Regions from separate parts of the Homo sapiens genome. Here regions 2 and 3 are each linked to region 1. Evidence: fine-mapped expression QTL. A gene starts in region 1. Each other region holds a variant in brackets. All regions are shown on one strand. Distances are from middle to middle. Region 1 holds the start of CATSPERG (catsper channel auxiliary subunit gamma). Region 2 overlaps SPINT2 (serine peptidase inhibitor, Kunitz type 2). Region 3 holds the start of RASGRP4 (RAS guanyl releasing protein 4).

Region 1 (6,391 bases):
CTACTCAGGAGGCTGAGGCAGGAGAATCGCTTAGAACCCAGGAGGCAGAGACTGCAGTGTGCCGAGATTGCGCCACTGCACTCCAGCCTGGGCGACAGAGTGTTAGGAGAAGCTGAGGCAGGGCTTGCATGTCTGACATAATGTAAAAGAGTCTTGGAACATGTCCGGGGTCCAGGGTCTAAAACCCCTTGTGGCCTTTGGAACACCAAGCTCTGTGCTAAAGGGTGGAAGCCTACCATCATGCACCATAATCTAAGCCAAGGGCATAAAATCCCTCATGGCCTCGATAGAATCCAGGGCTCATGGCTCTGGAATGTGTCTAGACTTGCTTGCTCCTTGCGCTCCCAGGATTGATTGTATCTTGAGTTAAAAGAACCTGCTCTCCATTATCTCAAGCAGCAGAGCAAATGCTAAACCATCACAGCTGTAAATCATGTGCTTAATGCAATGTGCCCTTTTGACCTCCACATTCTCACCACCTGTTTCTTTGTTGGATTACCAATAAATAGCGTGGGCTCCCAGAGCTCGGGGCTTTAGCAGCCTCCATACACTAGCAATGGCCCTCTGGTCCCACTTTACTTCTCTCTCTCAAACTGCCTTTTTCTCAATCCTTTGACTCCGCCGGACTTCGTCGCCACCCCCTCCCCCCGACCTGGTGTTGGGTCTGATCACCCCAACAACAGAGTGAGACTCCATCTCAAAAATTAATTAATTAATTAATAAAAACAAAGACAGGGTCTCACTCTGTCACCCAGGCTGGAGTGTAGTGGCATGATCACAGTTCCCTGCAGCCTCAACCTCCTAGGCTCATTATGATGATCCTGCCTTAGCATTTCTACAGGTGGGAGCCACCATGCCCAGCCAAATTCACCTAGGCTAGTCTTGAGCTTCTGGATGCAAGTGATCCTCCCGTGCTGGTGTGGTGGCGCACAACTAGTCCCAGCTATTCAAGAGGCTGATGCAGAAGGTTCACTTGAGCCCAGGAGGTCAAGGCTGCAATGAGCTGTGATTTCACCATTGCACTCCAGCCTGGGTAACAGAGTGAGACCCTGCCTCAGAAAAATAACAAAAATAACAATGGTGAATTTTATGGTGTGTGAATTATATATATGGTAAACTCCTACTCATAGCTTTAAAAACCTGGAACAAGGCCGGGTGAGGTGGCTCACGCCTGTAATCCCAGCACTCTAGGAGGCCGAGGCGGGCGGATCACGAGGTCAGGAGATCGAGACCATCCTGGCTAACCCGGTGAAACCCCATCTCTACTAAAAATACAAAAAATTAGCCGGGCGTGGTGGCAGGCGCCTGTAGTCCCAGCTACTTGGGAGGCTGAGGCAGGAGAATGGTGTGAACCCAGGAGGCGGAGCTTGCAGTGAGCCGAGATCGCGCCACTGCAATCCAGCCTGGGCGGAGCGAGACTCCGTCTCAAAAACAAAACAAAACAAAAAAAACATGGAACAAAAAAGCTTACTTGAGCACCTACTAGGTGCTTGGTGGGTTACTGGGAACTGTACACAGACAGCCTTCTTGAATCCTTAAAGCCACCAGGGTTGGATGGTGCTACCACATATTGAGATGGGGGCCAGGCACGGTGGCTCACACCTGTAATCCCAGCACTTTGGGAGTCTGAGGCAGGTGGATCACATGAGGTCAGGAGTTTGAGACCAGCCTGGGCAACGTGGTGAAACCCTGTCTCTACCAAATACAAAAATTAGCCGGGCGTGGTGTCACATGCCTGTAGTTCCAGCTACTTGGGAGGCCGAGGCAGGAGCATCGCTTGAACACGGGAGGCGGAGGTTGCAGTGAGCCGAGATCGCGCCACTGCACTCCAGTCTGGGCAACAGCGCAAGACTCCGTCTCAAAAAAATAAAATAAATAAATAAATAAAAATGTTAGAGGTGGGAAAACCAAGGCTCATAGAATGAGCCTATCCGTGCTGCACCCACTCACCTTTTCCTCGCAGGAGTAGTTGATCTTCAGGTAGTAAGGGAAGCCCAGGTATTTCTGCAAAGAGAGGTTAGGCCACACGTCCAGAAATGAGTGGAGTGCGGGTTCAAAATCCCTCTGGTTCACTTGACCCTGGTCCCCTCACCTCGCTCGGGTCGATGGGTGAGTCCACCAGCATGTGAAACAAGCTGCTCACTGTGTCCACGGGCTCTTGCTCAAAGAAGCTGTCGCTCACACCACTCTCGCCTACCCTCTTAAACTCGTTCAGGACAACCTGCCAGGTGCATTCCTGGAAATCCTTGATCGCCCACAGCCTCCACGACGCCAGGAGCACTGCCAGCAGGGCCCACAGCACCTGCACGACTCGGACTCTGGGCCACGGAGGACCGGCAGGGAACATGGCTGGGCCGCACATAACGTGGCTAGAACCTGGAGAACGCAGGAGTCAACACCCACGCGCCGGACAGCTCTCTGGAGCCCACTTTTAAGATTCCACCTCGCTTCTGCGCCTCTCACAGCACTTGCTCCTGGCCACGCCCCGGCTCTTGCTCCTGGCCCCGCCCCTGCACTTGCTCTTGGTCCCGCCCCTGCTCTTGCTCCTGGCCCTGCCCCCGCACGGACTTTTAGCCCCGCCTCTGCTCTTGTTCCTGGCTCCGCCTCTGCACTTGCTCCTGGTCCCGCCCCTGCTCTTGCTCCTGGCCCTGCCCCCGACCCTCGTGGGTATCGCACCTCTGCTATTGCTCCGGGCCCCAGCCCTACTAATGTTTCTGGCCACACCCCTGCTCCTCCGCCTCGTTCCGCCCCGCCGCCTCCACGTCTCTTCCTTTAACTTTATCCTCACCTTGCTCCTTATTCCGCCCCCTCCCTGTATTCCACTCTTGCTCTTCACCTGGTCTTGGTTTCTATTTCTCGCTTTGACAGTCCCCCTCTTAAGTTCCCCCGTACTGCTTCTGCCTGCGATCGCACCCGTGTACTTCCACCCGGCTGTGCCCCAACCTCTTGCCCCACCCTCGCACTTCTCTTGGTATCGCCGCTTTCTCCTCGCTCGGGGTCTGCCCAGGGGCTGGGTACTGTACCTGGTCTCGCCCGTCTCCGGGCCCCGCCCCTGCTCTTGCTCCCGGCCCCGCCCCTGCTCTTGCTCCCGGCCGGGCCCCCGTTTCTCGCCCGGGGCTTGCTCCTCACTCTGCTTCCGCTCCTGACCGCGCCCCTACTCCTCCACTTGGTCTTTATGGACCCGTTCCTTCCCCGGGTTCTCGGCGATTGGTTCTTCCCGCGCGGGCCCGTCGCCCCGTCCCGCCCTCTGGTAACGCCCCTCCTCCTCGCCCTGCCCCTTCTCGATGAAAACTGTCTCTTCGCCTCGGGATCTTTCCTCGCCCTTCGTTGTTTCCTCGCCCCACACCTTCTCCTTCCACGCCGGCACCAGCTTCTTAGCCGGCACCTTCTTGAGTCTCACCTTCCCCTCGTACCGCGACACCTTCTTGCCCCACTTCTTACTCTTCCTTCCCATGCCATTAACACCTGCCTGCTCTATACCCCGACTCTCCTGCCCCGCCCCGCCCTTCGCCCTTCACGTTCGGCTCCCCCTTTCCCTCCTCTGCCAGCTCCCACGACTCTTCCCCTCTTTCCCTCCTCTCCCAGCTCCCACGACTCTTCCCCTCTTTCCCCTGCCTCTCCCCTTCTCGCCTTCCCCTTCCCCTCCCCTTCCTAGTTCCTCCCCGTCCCCGGCATCCCCCCGCCCCTGGATGGCACAGCTTTTTCCCCGGCCCCGTGGTACCAGTCACTTGGTTAAAACCGGTCAACTGTCACTCGGCCGCACCAGTCCCGCCCCTCTTGCCCGGTCTCAAAATGGCCGCCCACACTTCCACAGCCGACTTCCGCCTTTGCAGAGGCACGCCCTCCTCTCACGCGGTCTCCAAGGTGACGCGCAACCCCTAAGGCACCGAGGGCTGGAGGCTGTCTCAGCACTGAGGGCGCGGGGCCTGGTCGGCAGAGGGTGCTGGAGACTACGTTTGTGCCAGGAAGGCCTTCAAGGAGTTTCTATTGGTTGTTCTGGCAGCAAGCACGGTCCCTACTTGTGCTTCCTACCCAAATATATATATATATATATTTTTTTGAGACGGAGTTTCGCTCTTTCTCCCAGGCTGGAGTGTGAAGTGGCGCGATTTCGGCTCACTGAAACCTCCGCGCCCCTGCCCCGGATTCAAGCGATTCTCCTGCCTCAGCCTCCCGAGTAGCTGGGATTATAGGCTCCCGCCACCACGCCTGGCTAATTTATTTTTTGTATTTTTAGTAGAAACGGGGTTTCATCATGTTGGCCAGGCTGGTCTCGACTCCTGACCTCAGGCGAACCACCCGCCTCGGCCTCCCAAAGTGCTGGGATTACAGGCGTGAGCCACTGCGCCCGGCCCTACCCCAAAATTCTACTCCTTAAAAAAGTGTGGTTTCCTGGAGACCTTGTGAGAATGAATAGGCTGCTTAGCACCGTCCTCTACAAAACAGGACAAGGACAGCCATCCTATACTGTTGTGGGAAGTGTGCCCGGCTCAAGTAAAATATTCATTAAGTTAATTTTCATTTGCATTCTGATGCCTTACAGGTAAGGATTCAGGCCATGACTTTTTGATGAACTCCAGACCAGACGTTTAACCCAGTGGTTTTCAAATTTGAGCATGCATTAGACTCACCTAAAAGGCTGGGTAAGCCAGGTTGGTGGGTACCACACCCTGAGTTTTTGTTTTTGTTTTAAAGATGGAGTCTCTGGCTGGGCATAGTGGCTCATGCCTATAATCCCAGCACTTTGGAAAGCTGAGGCAGGCGGATCACTTGAGGTCTGAAGTTGGATACCAGCCTGGCCAACATGATAAAACCTTGTCTCTACCAAAAAATACAACAATTAGCCGGGCATGGCGGCGGGCACCTGTAATCCCAGCTACTCGGGAGGCTGAGGCAGGAGTTGCTTGAACCCAGGAGGCGGAGGTTGCAGTGAGCCGAGATCCCTCCACTGCACTCCAGCCTGGGCGACAGAATGAGACCCTGTCTCAAAAAAAAAAAAAAAAATTAAGCCAGATGTGGTGCTGCACACCTGTAATCCCAGTACTTTGGGAGGCTGAGGTAGGAGGATCGCTTGAGGCCAGCCTGGGCAATATGGTAAGACCCTGTTGCTAACAATTTTTTTAAATTAGCCCAGTGTGGTGGTCCATCCCTGTGACCCCAGCTACCTGGGAGGTTGAGGCAGGAAGACCACTTGAGCCCAGGAGTTTGAGGCTGCAGTGAGCTCTGAAATACACGGAAATGCAGTGAGCTGTGATCACACCACTGCATTTCAGCCTGGGCAAAAGAGCAACACCCTATCTCAGGTTAGCCTTGAATTTCAGGCCTCATGTGAGCCTCCCATCTCAGCCTCCTGAGTAACTACCTGGCTACTTCCAGAATTTTTCATTCAGTAGATCTGGAGTGGGGCCTGATAATTTGTATTTCTGGCAAGTTCCTAGGTGATGCTGATACTAGTGGTCTGGAGACCACACCTTGAGAACCAGTGCTCTAGAACCTTCCATGACCCTCTAGGCCCTCAGGAAAACTTCCAAACCCCTCGGTTTCCAGAGCCCCTCATACTCTCCTCCCTGTCATTCTATCTGGCTCATCTGCCCTCTCCCCCTTAGACCTCTGTGGTCCACAGTCTGGTCACATGGAGCGACTTGAATATCCTTGGTCAGGTGTGAGCCATGCATGCTCCAGACCTGTGCAGACTCAGTAATGCCCTCTGGAATACCATTCCATGCTTTTTAACAGGGCCCACCACTTTCCTTCCTTTAGGTCTTCTCTGTGATACATGACCAGCCCTCATCCTACCTCTTGGCCCCTCTAGGCCACTCATGACTGGAAATGGGTGTTTCTTTTCCACTGGATCACAAGCTCCGTGAGGGCAGGGTGTATGGCTTTCTCTGCCTCTGTTGTCCCCCAGCCCTGCCAGGCACCGCATATAATAGTTGTTTTATGTAAATGAACCGATGATGGTGGTCTATCCTTCCCACCCCAGCCCACCCCCGCAGGCTAGGGAACGGTGACATCTTCTAGGGGAAGAAACTCAGTAGCCATGTACCAGAGCCCTTTTTTTTTTATTTTGTTTTTTTAGAAACGGGGTCTCACTCTCTCACCCAGGCTGGAGTGGAGTGGCGCAATCATTGCTCGCTGCAGCCTCGAACTCCCAGGCTCAAGTGATCTTCCCATGTCAGCCTCCCAAGTAGCTGGAACTGCAGATGCGAGTCATCATATCCAGTTAATTTGTTTTATTTTTACTTTTTTTTTTTTAGAGATGGGGGTTTCTTTTTCATCTTCTTTTTTTCCCTTTTTTTTTTTTTTTTTTTGTTGAGACAAAGTCTCACTCTGTCGCCCAGGCTGGAGTGCAGTGGTGCCATCACAGCTCACTGCAACCTCCACCTCCCCG
Region 2 (6,391 bases), 63 kb after region 1:
CACCCATCTGTTTTTTCTAGAACAAGGGTCTGCAAATGTTTTCTATAAGGGGCCAAATACTGAATACAAGCAGCAATTGGCCTGCCCGTCAGTGTGTGATCACACAAAGCAATCTCATAATCAGTGGGAAAAATGATACTGCTCAATGACATTTAAAAATTTTTGTCAGCTGGGCGTGGTGGCTCACACCTGTAATCCCAGCACTTTGGGAGGCCGAGGCAGGTGGATCACTTGAGGTCAGGAGTTCGAGACCAGCCTGACCAATATGGAGAAACCCCGTCTGTACTAAAAATACAAAATTAGCCGGGCGTGGTGGTGCATGCCTGTAATCCCAGCTATTCTGGAGGCTGAGGCAGGAGAATCGTTTGAACCCAGGAGGCACAGGTTGCAGTGAGCTGATCCATTGCACTCCAGCCTGGGCAACAAGAGTGAAACTTCATCTCTCAAAAAAAAAAAAAAATTTTTTTGTCAAGCTGGGCATGGTGGCTCATACCTATAATCCCAGCACTTTGGGAGGCCGAGGCAGGAGGATCATTTGAGGTCACGAGTTCAAGACCAGCCTGGGCAACATAGTGAGACCCTGTCTCTACAAAAAATAAAAAAATTTTTTTGGCCAGATACAGTGGCTCACACCTGTGGTCAGGATTTCAAGACCACCCTGGCTATCATGGCGAAACCCCATCTCTACTAAAAATATAAAACTTAGCCCGGCACAGTGGCGCGCGCCTGTAGTCCCAGCTACTCGGGAGGCTGAGGCGGGACAATCACTTGAACTCAGGAGGCGGAGGTTGCAGTGAGCTGAGATCGCACCACTGCACTCTAGCCTGGGCGACAGAGCAAGACCCTGTGTCAAAAAAATAAGGAAAGAAAAACTCTATTGGCTATAAATGCACAGAGTAACAAAACAAAACAAAACAAACAAACAGAAAGAATGTTTATTTAGCATACTGTAAGTTAAAACATTGGAAACATTTAGGATTAAAGTGTTAATTTCTGTGCAAAAGAATTTCTAAGGGGAGTTTGAACCGTGCTTGTGGTCTTCTCACCATATAACTTACGATACAGAGCAAGCATCATTTCTACACCTTTTCCAGCAATTGCCAAACACTTTTCTAGATCTGGATCAGCTTTCAACGTTTTATCCTTTGCTCTTTCAATGTCACAAAATTGCTCGCAGAGCTGCTTCACAGAAGAGGCTCTGCCAGTGTTGCTTCCTCTGGGCCACCATCCAGAAAGTCACAACTGCCGCCCTCATTTCCGTGGACAAGAAGCCTTCACAAGCTCCCTGGCTGCAGATCCAGAGTCTCTCCAGTGGCAGAGGGAAGTGCAACACCTCCCGTAAGCTGGTCTACCTCTCCATTTTATGTTTTTTTTTTTTTTTAAGACAGTCTCACTCTGTCGTCCAGGCTGGAATGCAATAGTGCGATCTAGGCTCACTGCAACCTCTGCCTCCCGGGTTCAAGTCATCTCCTGCCTCAGCCTCCTGAGTAGCTAGGACTCCAGGAGTGTACTACCACACCTGGCTACTTTGTGTATTTTCAGTAGATAGGGTTTTGCTGTGCTGGCCAGGCTGGCCTCAAACTCCTAACCTCAAGTGATCTGCCTACCTCGGCCTCCCAAAGTGCTGGGATTACAGGCGTGAGCCACCTTAGCGAAAAACACTGCAGAACACCTTTCCTAAAAACAACTAACATCACTAAAAACAAGTCTCCTCTTTTCATTAAAAACACTTGGAATTCTAAGGATAGTAGCCAAGGAGAAGTTATTTGCTATAAAAATCCCCAGACATGCCACTCCTTAGTATCAAAAAGCAAAGAAAGCTCTGAAGAGTCATTTAATCCAAGAGTTTCAAAGAACTCCATCTCAAAAAAAAAGAAAGAAAAAACATTGTTGTGAAGATTAAAGGAGTTTTTAATCCATTATAATTGCTTAAAATAGTATTTAGCACACAGCTTTCTTTTTTTTTTTGAGACAGGGACTTGCCCTGTCACCCAGGCTGGAGTACAGTGGTACAATCTTGGCTCACAGTAGCCTTGACCTGTGCTCAGTGACCCACCCACCTCAGCCTCCAAGTAGCTGGGACTATAGGCGTGTGCCACCATACCCGGTTAATTTTTGCATTTTTTGTAGAAACGAGGTTTCACCATGTTGCCCAGACTAGTATTGAAGTCCTGGGCTCAAATGATCCACCCGCCTCGGCCTCCTGAAGTGCTGGGATTACAGGCGTGAGCCACCGCACCTGGCCTAGCACAAAACTTTTAACAAATAGTAGATATTGTATCTTTACGATTGTATTTTTTATGAAGACAGGACTAATATAGGGACAGTCAGAATAAAGAGAATGACACATTTCACTACAGAGTCCAACCAAGCATGCTGACGGAGAGGATAAGGAGGAAGAGGATATACAGGGAAGGCCAAAAGTACAACCTCAAGCCAAACCAATGATGTCTTATCTTCACCTGGAGGAAGACAATGGCAAACCACCACACGGGTCAAAGTCCTGCATGGCTACAAGATCAGGATATGCTGGGCTGGGAGGCAGAAAGCCAGAGGGAGGGACTGGTGGAAAAAACAAATACCAAAACAAATGAAGCAACACAAACCCTCCATGCTTTCCACACCTACTTGCACTTGCACTTCAAGCATCTTTTCACCAGGGAATGAATGAGAGCATCTTAAAAAGAGGTACTGAGGCCGGGCACAGTGGCTCATGCCTGTAAGCCCAGCACTCTGGGAGGCCGAGGCAGATCACCTGAAGTCAGGAGTTCAAGAAAACAGGTACTGAATGACAGGAGGTACTGAAGCCTATTTCAATTCTACCAAGCCAGATTCCAAAGGTGACATTTACTGTGTAATCAGCCTTATTTTAAGATGATCTATAAATCTACCTACTTTGGTTAGCTGGCTAGGTTCTATATATTTGAGTGTTTCTGTTTCCAGTACAGAAAGCTACCAACTACCCATCTCCTCTAGGCTTGGGTGTCTGGAAGTTTTCATTATTGAGACAATTCAGAACCTTTCAAAAAAAAACCTCAGGTATTTATGAGGAAAGAACATTTACAATTACAAATCCTACTTAAGTTATGAGGCTCATAAAATCTTGGTGTTTCAGATATAAAATCTTGGTATTTTCTATATAAAATATTTAGATATAAAAGTTTACATTTCAGGCCGGGCACGGTGGCTCACGCCTGTAACCCCAGCACTCTGGGAGGCTGAGGCAGGTGGATCACCTGAGGTCAGGAGTTCAACACCAGCCTGGCCAACATGGTGAAACCCCGTCTCTACTAAAAATACAAAAAAATGAGCCGGGCGTGGTGGTGCATGCTTGTAATCCCAGTTACTCAGGAGGCTGAGGCAGGAGAATCGCTTGAACCCAGAAGGTGGAGGTTGCAGTGAGCCGAGATCGCACCACTGCACTCCAGAGTCTGGGCGACAGAGACTCCATATCAAAAAATAAAAAATTTACATTTCATAACCTATCAGCACAATGCA[A/G]CTCATCACTACTCATGCCTACCATCACTCCATATTCCACTCTGAAACAAGACTATTAAGTCTACCCTCGCCTCAATCCATAACAAGAACCCGAGCAGTCCATCTGAATAGCTGGGAAGGAAACAATAGTTTCAAATCTTCTAAGAAACTGTCTGCTGTTAATTCGCATTCAGCCATTCTTTACCTTGTGCAAATCATGGACCATTTTCAGAACTGAGGAAAGCTCTTGGACCCTCTCTCTGGAATGGTGTTTCTCAACCTTTTTTCATTACTACCTTCCCCCTAAGACTTTTTGGAAATGTTTTTCCTAATCGCCCCACAAAATTTTAACACCACAGACATACTATATATCTATTCATGTAGAGCGGCCCTTCAAAAGGTCACAAACTATTATAGTATCTTTTTGTTCCCCCACCCCTTTAAGAACATGCCATACACTCTAAATGACAGACCCTGGCATACACATGGACAAACTATCACATATAAAATTGTTTTGAGATGGGGTCTCGCTCTGTCGCCCAGGCTGGAGTGCAATGGTGCGATCTCGGCTCACTGCAACCTCCACTTCCTGGGCTCAAGCAATTCTCCCACCTCAGCCTCCCACATAGCTGGGACTACAGGCTGACTAGTTTTTTGTATTTTTTGTTTCACCATGTTGAAACTCCTCAGTCAAGCAATCCACCTGCCTCAGCCCCCCAAAGTGCTGGGATTACAAGCGTGAGCCATTGTGCCCAGCAGTATCACATAAAAGTGAAGGACTTCAGATTAAGGGACTTCTGAGGCCATGGACCCTGGGCCCAGTCAGGAATCACCCTGAGCTCCATCTCCAACACGTGTGAGTAAAACAACATGTGAATTCTTGCCCTCTTTTTTTTCTGAGATGGAGTCTCACTCTGTCTCCCAGGCTGGACTGCAGTGGCGTGATCTCGGCTCACTGCAACCTCCACCCTCCGAGTTCAAGCGATTCTCCTGCCTCAGCCTCCAGGCGCCTGCCACTGCACCCGGCTAATTTTTTTTTGTATTTTTAGTAGAGATGGGGTTTCAACATCTTGGCCAGGCTGGTCTTGAACTCCTGATCTCGTGATCCACCCACCTCGGCCTCCCAAAGTGCTGGGATTACAGGCATGAGCCACTGTACCCGGCCAAACATGTGGTGGTCTCTTGTAAGTGGCTCCTCTCACTTAGCATAACATTTTTTTTTTTTTTGAGAGAGTCTTGCTCTGTTGCCCAGGCTGGAGTGCAGTGGCATGATCTCAGCTCACTGCAAGCTCCACTTCCTGGGTTCACGCCATTCTCCTGCCTTAGCCTCCCAGATAGCTGGGACTATAGGCGCCCGCCACCACGCGAGGCTAATTTTTTTGTATTTTTAGTAGAAACGGGTTTTCACCGTGTTAGCCAGGATGGTCTCGATCTCCTGATCTCGTGACCCGCCTGCCTCGGCCTCCCAAAGTGCTGGGGTTACAGGCATGAGCCACCGCGCCCGGCCTCGCCCTCATTTCTAAAATGGCTTCTAATCATAAAAAGCATATTTCAAATAAACTTCAAAATAAGTAAACTCTAGCTCCTACTTCACCTGCCAAGGAAAATAAAACAACAAAAAAAGGTAAATAAACTCCAAAGTTCCTGGGCCTCAGCATCAACATCAGCACTTCTTTACAGGGAGTTTTCAAAAAGATGTTGCCAGAAAAAAACCATGAAATGACACTTGTGAGGAGGATCTTGCAGGACATCGGAATCCACACTCTAATGTCCACATTAGTCATGGCCGGTGGGCCAAGGCCTCCTGGGGCTAATGGAGTCATTTCAGTGTGACTCCTGCTGGGCTCTCTCCCGCCTCACATGAGCCACAGGCTTATCACCCCTTATTCAGCCTCCCCTGTAGCCTCCAGACATGGCAAACAGAAGCTCTGCATGCATTCTGCAAATGGCTGGGGATGGGTAAAATGAGAAACAGGGTGGGGAGCAGGGTGAAAGAGGAGAAGTGTGATTTCTCCATTGCAGGCTGAGCTCTCAAATACTGACTGGGCAAAGCAATGTTTCCAGTGGAAAGGGGCCAGTCTCCCGCGGTGACCTGAAGGCAAGGCCCTCAACCTTCTTTAGGAACTGCAACCATTTGAACCTCAGAAGCCCCCATTTTCAGTGCTAAGCACACCAACCCTGACACTCATCACCAGACATACATTCATCTGTTCATTTATTGTACTGTCTTCCTCTCATTATGACACGTCTGCCACGGATGGGGGAGGGGGTCTATTTTGTTCAGTGCTCTAATTTGAGTGAGTCAGTGCCTGGCAATTGGTGGGTGCTCAATAAACATTTGCTGACTATATCAGTGAATAAGATTTCGAACTACCCTGGAACCAAACTGCCTTGCCTGCAAGTAGGACAAGCACTCCTTCTATGGAGGATAAGAATAATGTGAGAAGCTGTTTTAGAGAATTCCCAGCTGATCGCCAACACCAGCTTTACTTTAGCTCTTCTGTCATCTTATCTCTGACCACCAGGGTCACGACTATCCATGGGGGTGAGGAGGAAAGTAAAGAAAGGGTGGCAACTAATAACACGTCTGTGGAGTCTGCTGGAAAGCTTACAGCAGTTAAGGTTCTACAGACACTATAATTAACCTGAGAGGTCCATGCATTTCGAAAATCCCTTGGAAGTGCAGGAGAGGGCTGGGCCACGTGGCTCGAGCCTGTAATCCCAGCACTTTGAGAGGCTGAGGTGGGCAGATCACCTGAGGTCGGGAGTTCGAGACCAGCCTGGCCCACATGTTGAAATCCCATCTCAGGCCGGGCGCGGTGGCTCACGCCTGTAATCCCAGCACTTTGGGAGGCCGAGGCGGGCAGATCACAAGGTCAGGAGATCAAGACCATCCTGGCTAACACGGTGAAAC
Region 3 (6,391 bases), 90 kb before region 1:
GATATTAATATCTCATTGATTTTTAAATATTGCAAACACCTTTTCCCCTTCTGTCATCTGACATTTGTCCCATGGTGTCTTCGTTAAAAGAAAATCTGCCTGTAATCTCAGCACTTTGGGAGGTCTAGGTGAAAGGATCCCTTGAGCCCAGGAGTTTGAGACCAGCCTGGGCAACATAGCAAGACCCCATCTTTAAAATTTAAAAGAGAAAGAAAGAAGAACAGCAACAAAAGAAGAAAGTCTGTATTTGCATGTTATCATGTCCATCATTTTTCTGCCTTAGGAGTTTCTGTGGTTTGATTCAGAAGTCCCTTCCTTTGTAGTCATCAGCACGGGTATTGTGGGTATTCTTGGCCAGCCCGAGGACTAAGGCTGCCTGTGTACAGTAGAAACAAGTGCCAGGATTTCTGACCTCCTCCTTGAGGCTTTTCTGGGTCCCCAGGGCCTGGAGACACTGCCACACTACGAAGTCTCTGCTCAGCCAGGATTGTTAAGTCACATTCAAGATGCAGGTGCTACAGGAGATGGTCTGAGAGAGTCAGACAGAACACCATGAGGCCAGGGGGAGAGAGGGTGAAAACGGGCAGGAAGAGAGAGTCTGAAGCTATGGTAACATCGCGTGATGGAAAAACTAAAGACGGCGAGTTCAGTGACTGTCTAAATGTTCTGCATTGGAAAAAATATACATCCACGGTTCTTTCTTTTAGTGAAAAAAAAAGTGGAAAAATATACTTCTGAGAGAACGATTTCAATGAATTGCTAACATGCTATGTTTGGTAGAATCACAGTAACTACTATGACCCATTTATTCCACTCCTGGGTACTGCCCTACAATATGGTACACTCTATGTTCATCAAAAGTCAGATGCTCAAATAGTCACAGCAGCCCCAACCTGGAAACAACTCAGATGTCCATCACAGGAAAATTGATCAATAAATCACGGAGGCCGGGGACAGTGGTTCACGCCTGGAGAGTCAGCAATTTGGAGGCATAGGAAGGACGATTGCTTGAGCCTAGGAGTTCGAGATCAGCCTAGGCAACAAAGTAAGACCCTGTTTCTACAGGAAAATAATAAAAAAAAAATTAGCAGAGCACAGTGGTGTGCACTTGTAGTCCTAGCCACTCAGGAGGCTGAGGTGGGAAGATGGCTTAAGCCCAGGAGTCCGAGGCCGCAGTGAGCTAGGATCTCGCCACTGCACTCCAACCTTGGTGACAGAGGGAGACCCTGCTGTGGAGTCTTAATTAAGAAAAAAGAGTCAGGTTGGTAGGACCAAATAAAAATAAAAAAAAAAAACAGAGAAGCTATAAGTTTGTCTTTTTTTTACAGTCTAGGACATATAGTCCTCTTGTATAGATAACTCACTTAACTTAAAATGTTTTAGTGTCTAGTTATTACCAGACTCTAGACTGATGAAAAATAGAACTTAGTGCTGTGACTCACGCCTGTAACCCCAGCACTTTGGGAGGCTGAGGCGGGTGGATTATTTGAGACCAGGAGTTCAAGACCAGCCTGGCCAATATGGCAAAACCCCGTCTCTACAAAAATTAGCTGGGTGTGGTGGCACACACCTGTGATCCCAGATACTGGGGAGGCTGAGGCAGGAGAATCGCTTCAATCGCAGAGGTTGCAGTGAGCTGAGATCACGCCACTGCACTCCAGACTGGGCGACAGAGCAGGACTCTGTCTCAAAAATAAAAAAAAAAAATAGAAGTTAGCATGCCACCAGCCCGCTTAGTCACTATCCACAACACCTATCTCTAAATAAATAAATATATATATATAAGTCATGGAATTGTCACATAATGAAAGACTATATGGAATTATTATTATTATTATTATTATTATTATTTTGAGACAGAGTCTCGCTCTGTCGCCCAAGCTGAAGTGCAGTGGTGCAATCTCGGCTCGCTACAACCTCCTCCTCCCGGGTTCAAGCGATTCTCCTGCCTCAGCCTCCCAAGTAGCTGGGATTACAGGCACGCACCACCACACCTGGCTCATTTTTGTATTTGTAGTAGAGATGGGAGTTTCACCATGTTGGCCAGACGGGTCTCGAACTCCTGACCTCAAGTGATCTGCCCATCTCAGCCTCCCAAAGTGCTGGGATTACAGGCGTGAGCCACCGCGCCCGGCCAAAAAAAGGAATAAATTATAACCAAATATGATAACATGGAAGAACTGCAAAGACAAGACGTGGAGAGAAAGAACCCAGATTCAATACAGGAGTCCATTTTTATCCAGCTCAAAACAAGACAAAACTACTGCGCCAGACTTCGGGCGAGTGGGGATCTGTGGGAATTCGTGCTGGGAAGAAAGACAGGGGGCTTGTGGAGGGTGAGAATGTTCTGTGTCTGGATTTGTATGAATGTCACACAGGTTTGCTCAGTTGGTGACATTTCATCAACCTAAATACTTAATGATTCGTGATCTTTTTTGTACTTCAATTTAAAAAAAAGTGTCGAGCATGACACATTTAGGTAAAAAGAAAAAAATGCACACTCAAAAGAAAAGTCTGTTTCTAGGAGCACATGTTTATATGATGTGCTTAAACGCACAGACAGCAGTTTGGACGAAACTCGACAACGTGTCATATTGGTCACACCCTGCTTAAGAAAGGCAGGGGATGGGGAGGGGCTTCCCCAAGGCTTTACCTCCATCTCTAATGTTTTTTGATGTGTGTGTGTGTTTTTTTTTTTTGTTTTTTGTTTTTTGAGACAGGGTCTGGCTCTGCCACGCAGACTGAAGTGCAGTGGCACCATCATGGTTCACTGCAGCCTCGACCTCCTTGGGCTCAAGCAATCTTCTAGCCTCAGCCTCCTGAGTAGCTGGGACTACAAGTGTGCA[T/A]CACTACGCTCAGCTAACTTTTTTTTTTTGAGACAGAGTTTCGCTCCTGTTGCCCAGGCTGGAGTGCAATGGCGCGATCTCGGCTCACGGCAACCTCCGCCTCCTGGGTTCAAGCAATTCTCCTGCCTCAGCCTGCCGAGTAGCTGGGATTACAGGCATGTGCCACAACGCCTGGCTAATTTTGTATTTTTAGTAGAGACGGGGTTTCTCCATGTTGCTCAGGCTGGTCTTAAACTCCCAACCTCAGGTGATCCGCCCACCTCGGCCTCCCAAAGTGCTGGGATTGCAGGAGTGAGCCACCACACCGGCCTAACGTTTTACATTTTTTGTAGAGACGGGGTTTTGTCACGTTGTTCAAGCTGGTCTCAAACTCTTAGACTCAAGCGATCCGCCTGCCTTGGCCTCCCAAAGTGCTGGATGACAGGCGTGAGCCCCTGTGAGCCCCCGTGCCTGGTCCGGTATGTAATTTTTTTTAAGGTAACAGTGGATTGTGTGAGGATTAAATGAGTTAATATTTTTAAAGTCCTTACAGCAGTGTGTGGTACACAGTAGGTGCTATGTGGAGGTTTGTTACAATAAAGTCAGAAAGTGAAAATGTTTTCCAGGGTACAAATGGTATCACTTAAACTAGGAATAAGAGACGCCTATGAAGAAATATACAAAATACTATGTCTTGTGAGTTTCCATTCAAACCTTCATGAATTATATATATGAATATGTCCTTCTAGACAGACAGACTTATCTTTTTGAGTGAGTGTGTGTGTTTTTACATAAATATCAGTCATGCTTTAAAAAGAAAAGCCCCTTCTTTTATTGAAGTATGACAGTGACGGGTCTCGACACCGAAAGATGGGGGAGATAGAGAGCCCGCCGGGGAGCTTGAGGGTGGGAGAGCCAGCGATGCCGGAAACCTCAGCAGAAGGGATCCCCGTGTGGGGGAGGGGGGCCTTCGGTCTCTCCCCAGCCTCTTCCTTCCCCCTGGCCTGAGGGTGGGTGGGGAGGGGCAGTTCCTCTTTCCTTCCCAAGCACCGAGGAGGCCCCAGCTCCCTAGGGGCTGAGAAGCTGGAGTCCTGGGCAAGGGGAGGAGCTGAGCCCTACTCTTGCAAGACCCCCGGCCTCCTCACCCCACGCGGGAAGCATGAACAGAAAAGACAGTAAGAGGTGAGAGGACCCTCCCCAGGGAGCCCGGCAGCACCCTGAGGCCTCCCTCTGCATGGGAGGGCTGGGGAGATCACTCGCCAGGGTGGCAGGATTCCTGACTTCTTTGGGATCAGGCGCAGGGGGGCCAGGTGGATGCTTCAGGGAGTCTGGAGCCAGCTACGGCTGCAGTCGCTTGTATGTGGCATCTGTACCGTGTTGTCCCTGGAGTTTGAGCTGCTCCGTGCCCCTTTTCCACTCCTCATCACCCCACCTCCATCCCTGGCCTGGGCTGAGTGTCTCTGCCCTCCCTGGGGGCTTCCTGGTTCCCCATCCCCGTGGACTGGAAACTCCAGGCTCCTGCAGGGCCTGGCCCAGGAGAGGGGAGTGTGGCACAGGGCAAGGCGACTCCCCTGCCTCTTAAACCACTCCTGGCTGTTCCAGACCCCTACAGGGGGCTGCAGGACAGGGCCTAGTGGCTGGCTGTGCGGCCGGTTCTGGAATGGGCTTCATCTCCTGGGCAAGCTGGCCCTTCTGTCCCCACAGAGGCAGATGGTGGGTGGCTCCCTAGCCTGGGTAACTCCTCCTGCCACCCCCAGCACCACTCTGATGGGCAAAGGGCTTTCCTCCCCACCCAGCAGTTTAGTGGTAGACTCCTGGCTGCCTAATTTCCTAGCTGTGTGACCTTAGGTAAGTCACTTAACTGCTCTGTGTCTCGGGTTTTTCTTCTGTCAGTAGAACAATCATATCCTCTACCTCGGAGAGGCCTGTAAGTACTCAATGAGACACTCTAGACCAGTGGTTCTCAAACTGGAGCGAGCCTCAGAACTGTCTGGAGGGCTTGTAAAATACAGGTTGCTGGGCTTACCTTTAAAGTGTTTGGTTTTTTTTTTTTTGTTTTTTTTTTTTGAGACGGAGTCTCGCTCTGCCGCCAGGCTGGAGTGCAGTGGCACAATCTTGGCTCACTGCAACCTCTGCCTCCCGGGTTCAAGCGATCATCCTGCCTCAGCCTCCCAAGTAGCTGGGACTACAGGTGTGCACCACCACACCCAGCTACTTTTTTGTATTTTTAGTAGAGATGGGGTTTCACCATGTTGGGCAGGATGGTCTCGATCTCTTGACCTCGTGATCCACCCACCTCGGCCTCCCAAAGTGCTGGGATTAGAGGCATGAGCCACCACCCTTAGCCTTAAAGTGTTTGATTTTGTAGGTCTGGGTTGGGACCTGAGAATCTGTATTGATATCCAGTTCCCAGGTGATGCTTTTGGTACTAGCTGGGTGCCCACACTTAGGGAAATGCTGACTTAGTTAGAATGCTCCTTCCTTAGCCTAGGACATATATAATACTTTAAAATGTCCCTTCTAGTAACGATGGCTCATGCCTCTAATCCCAGCACTTTGGGAGGATAAGACAAGGAGAACTTGAAGCCAGGAGTTCTAGACCAGCCTGAGAAATATAGTGAGACCCCCCCCCCCATTGACACACACCCAAACACACACACAAAATTAGCTGGGTATGGTCGTGCACACCTGTAGTCCCAGCTACCTGGGAGACTAAGGCAGGAGGATCACTCGAGTCCAGGAGTTCAAGGTTACAATGAGCTTTGATTGCACAACTGTGCTCCAGCCTGGGAGACAGAGCAAGACCCTGTCTGAAAAAGGGTAGAGGTGGGAGCCTGGCGTGATGGCTCACACCTGTAATCCCAGCACTTTCAGAGGCAAAGGTGGGAGGATCAGTTGGGCCCAGGAGTTTGAAACCAGCCTGGCCAACATGGTGAAACCCCATTTCTACTAAAAATACAAAAATTAGCTCGGCGTGGTGGCACGTGCCTGTAGTCCCAACTACTTGGGAGGCTGAGGCAGGAGAATTGCTTGAACCCGGGAGGTGGAGGTTGCAGTGAGCTGAGATCGCACCACTGCACTCCAGCCTGGGTGACAGAGTGAGACCCTGTCTCCAAAAAAAGAAAGAAAGAAAGAAAAAAGAAATCCCTGGAGAAGGTCCAAGGACTATCCTCATTTTTCCTTCGAGGAAATTGAGCCCCAGAGAAATTAAGTGACTAACACGAAGTCACAACAGCTGGCAAAAATTTCTGGATTCTACTTTCGTCTGAAGCTTGGATTCAGCAGCCTCCCTGCTCCCACCATCCTTGTCTCTCCATTACCCTCTTCCCCTATCAGGAACAGCAGCCTCTGGGAGGCACCAGGCAGAGGGAGAATTATTATTACTATTATTACTATTATTATTATTATTATTTTGAGACTAAGACTCGCTCTGTTGCCCAGGCTGGAGTGCAGTGGCACGATCTCGGCTCACTGCAACCTCCGCCTCCTGGGTTCAAGCAAGTCTTCTGCCTCAGCCTCCTGAGTAGCTGGGATTACAGGAGCCCACCACCACGCCTGGCTAATTT

Evidence for each region. PIP is the estimated chance that this variant, and not a neighbour inherited with it, causes the effect.
Region 2: its variant is the best candidate, but not a certain one, in a credible set for the expression of CATSPERG in whole blood (TOPMed, PIP 0.72).
Region 3: its variant is the best candidate, but not a certain one, in a credible set for the expression of CATSPERG in prostate (GTEx, PIP 0.67).

Annotation. Positions count from the first base shown.
Region 1 is chr19:38,333,206-38,339,596 of GRCh38, reverse strand. CATSPERG (catsper channel auxiliary subunit gamma) reads right to left here and starts at 3,767. Exons shown (of 29, transcript NM_021185.5): 1 at 3,722-3,767; 2 at 2,093-2,376; 3 at 1,951-2,004. The coding sequence starts at 2,362. RefSeq lists silencers at 2,980-3,149, 3,520-3,599 and enhancers at 3,720-3,929, 3,734-4,028.
Region 2 is chr19:38,269,803-38,276,193 of GRCh38, reverse strand. All of the region lies in intron 1 of SPINT2 (serine peptidase inhibitor, Kunitz type 2), which reads right to left. Among named protein-coding and RNA genes, the nearest start is that of SPINT2, 8.4 kb to the right of the region's middle. The variant A/G (reference allele first, on the strand shown) is at 3,499.
Region 3 is chr19:38,423,685-38,430,075 of GRCh38, reverse strand. RASGRP4 (RAS guanyl releasing protein 4) reads left to right here and starts at 3,857. Exons shown (of 17, transcript NM_170604.3): 1 at 3,857-4,007. The coding sequence starts at 3,985. RefSeq lists silencers at 200-400, 3,922-3,981 and an enhancer at 2,515-3,029. The variant T/A (reference allele first, on the strand shown) is at 2,847.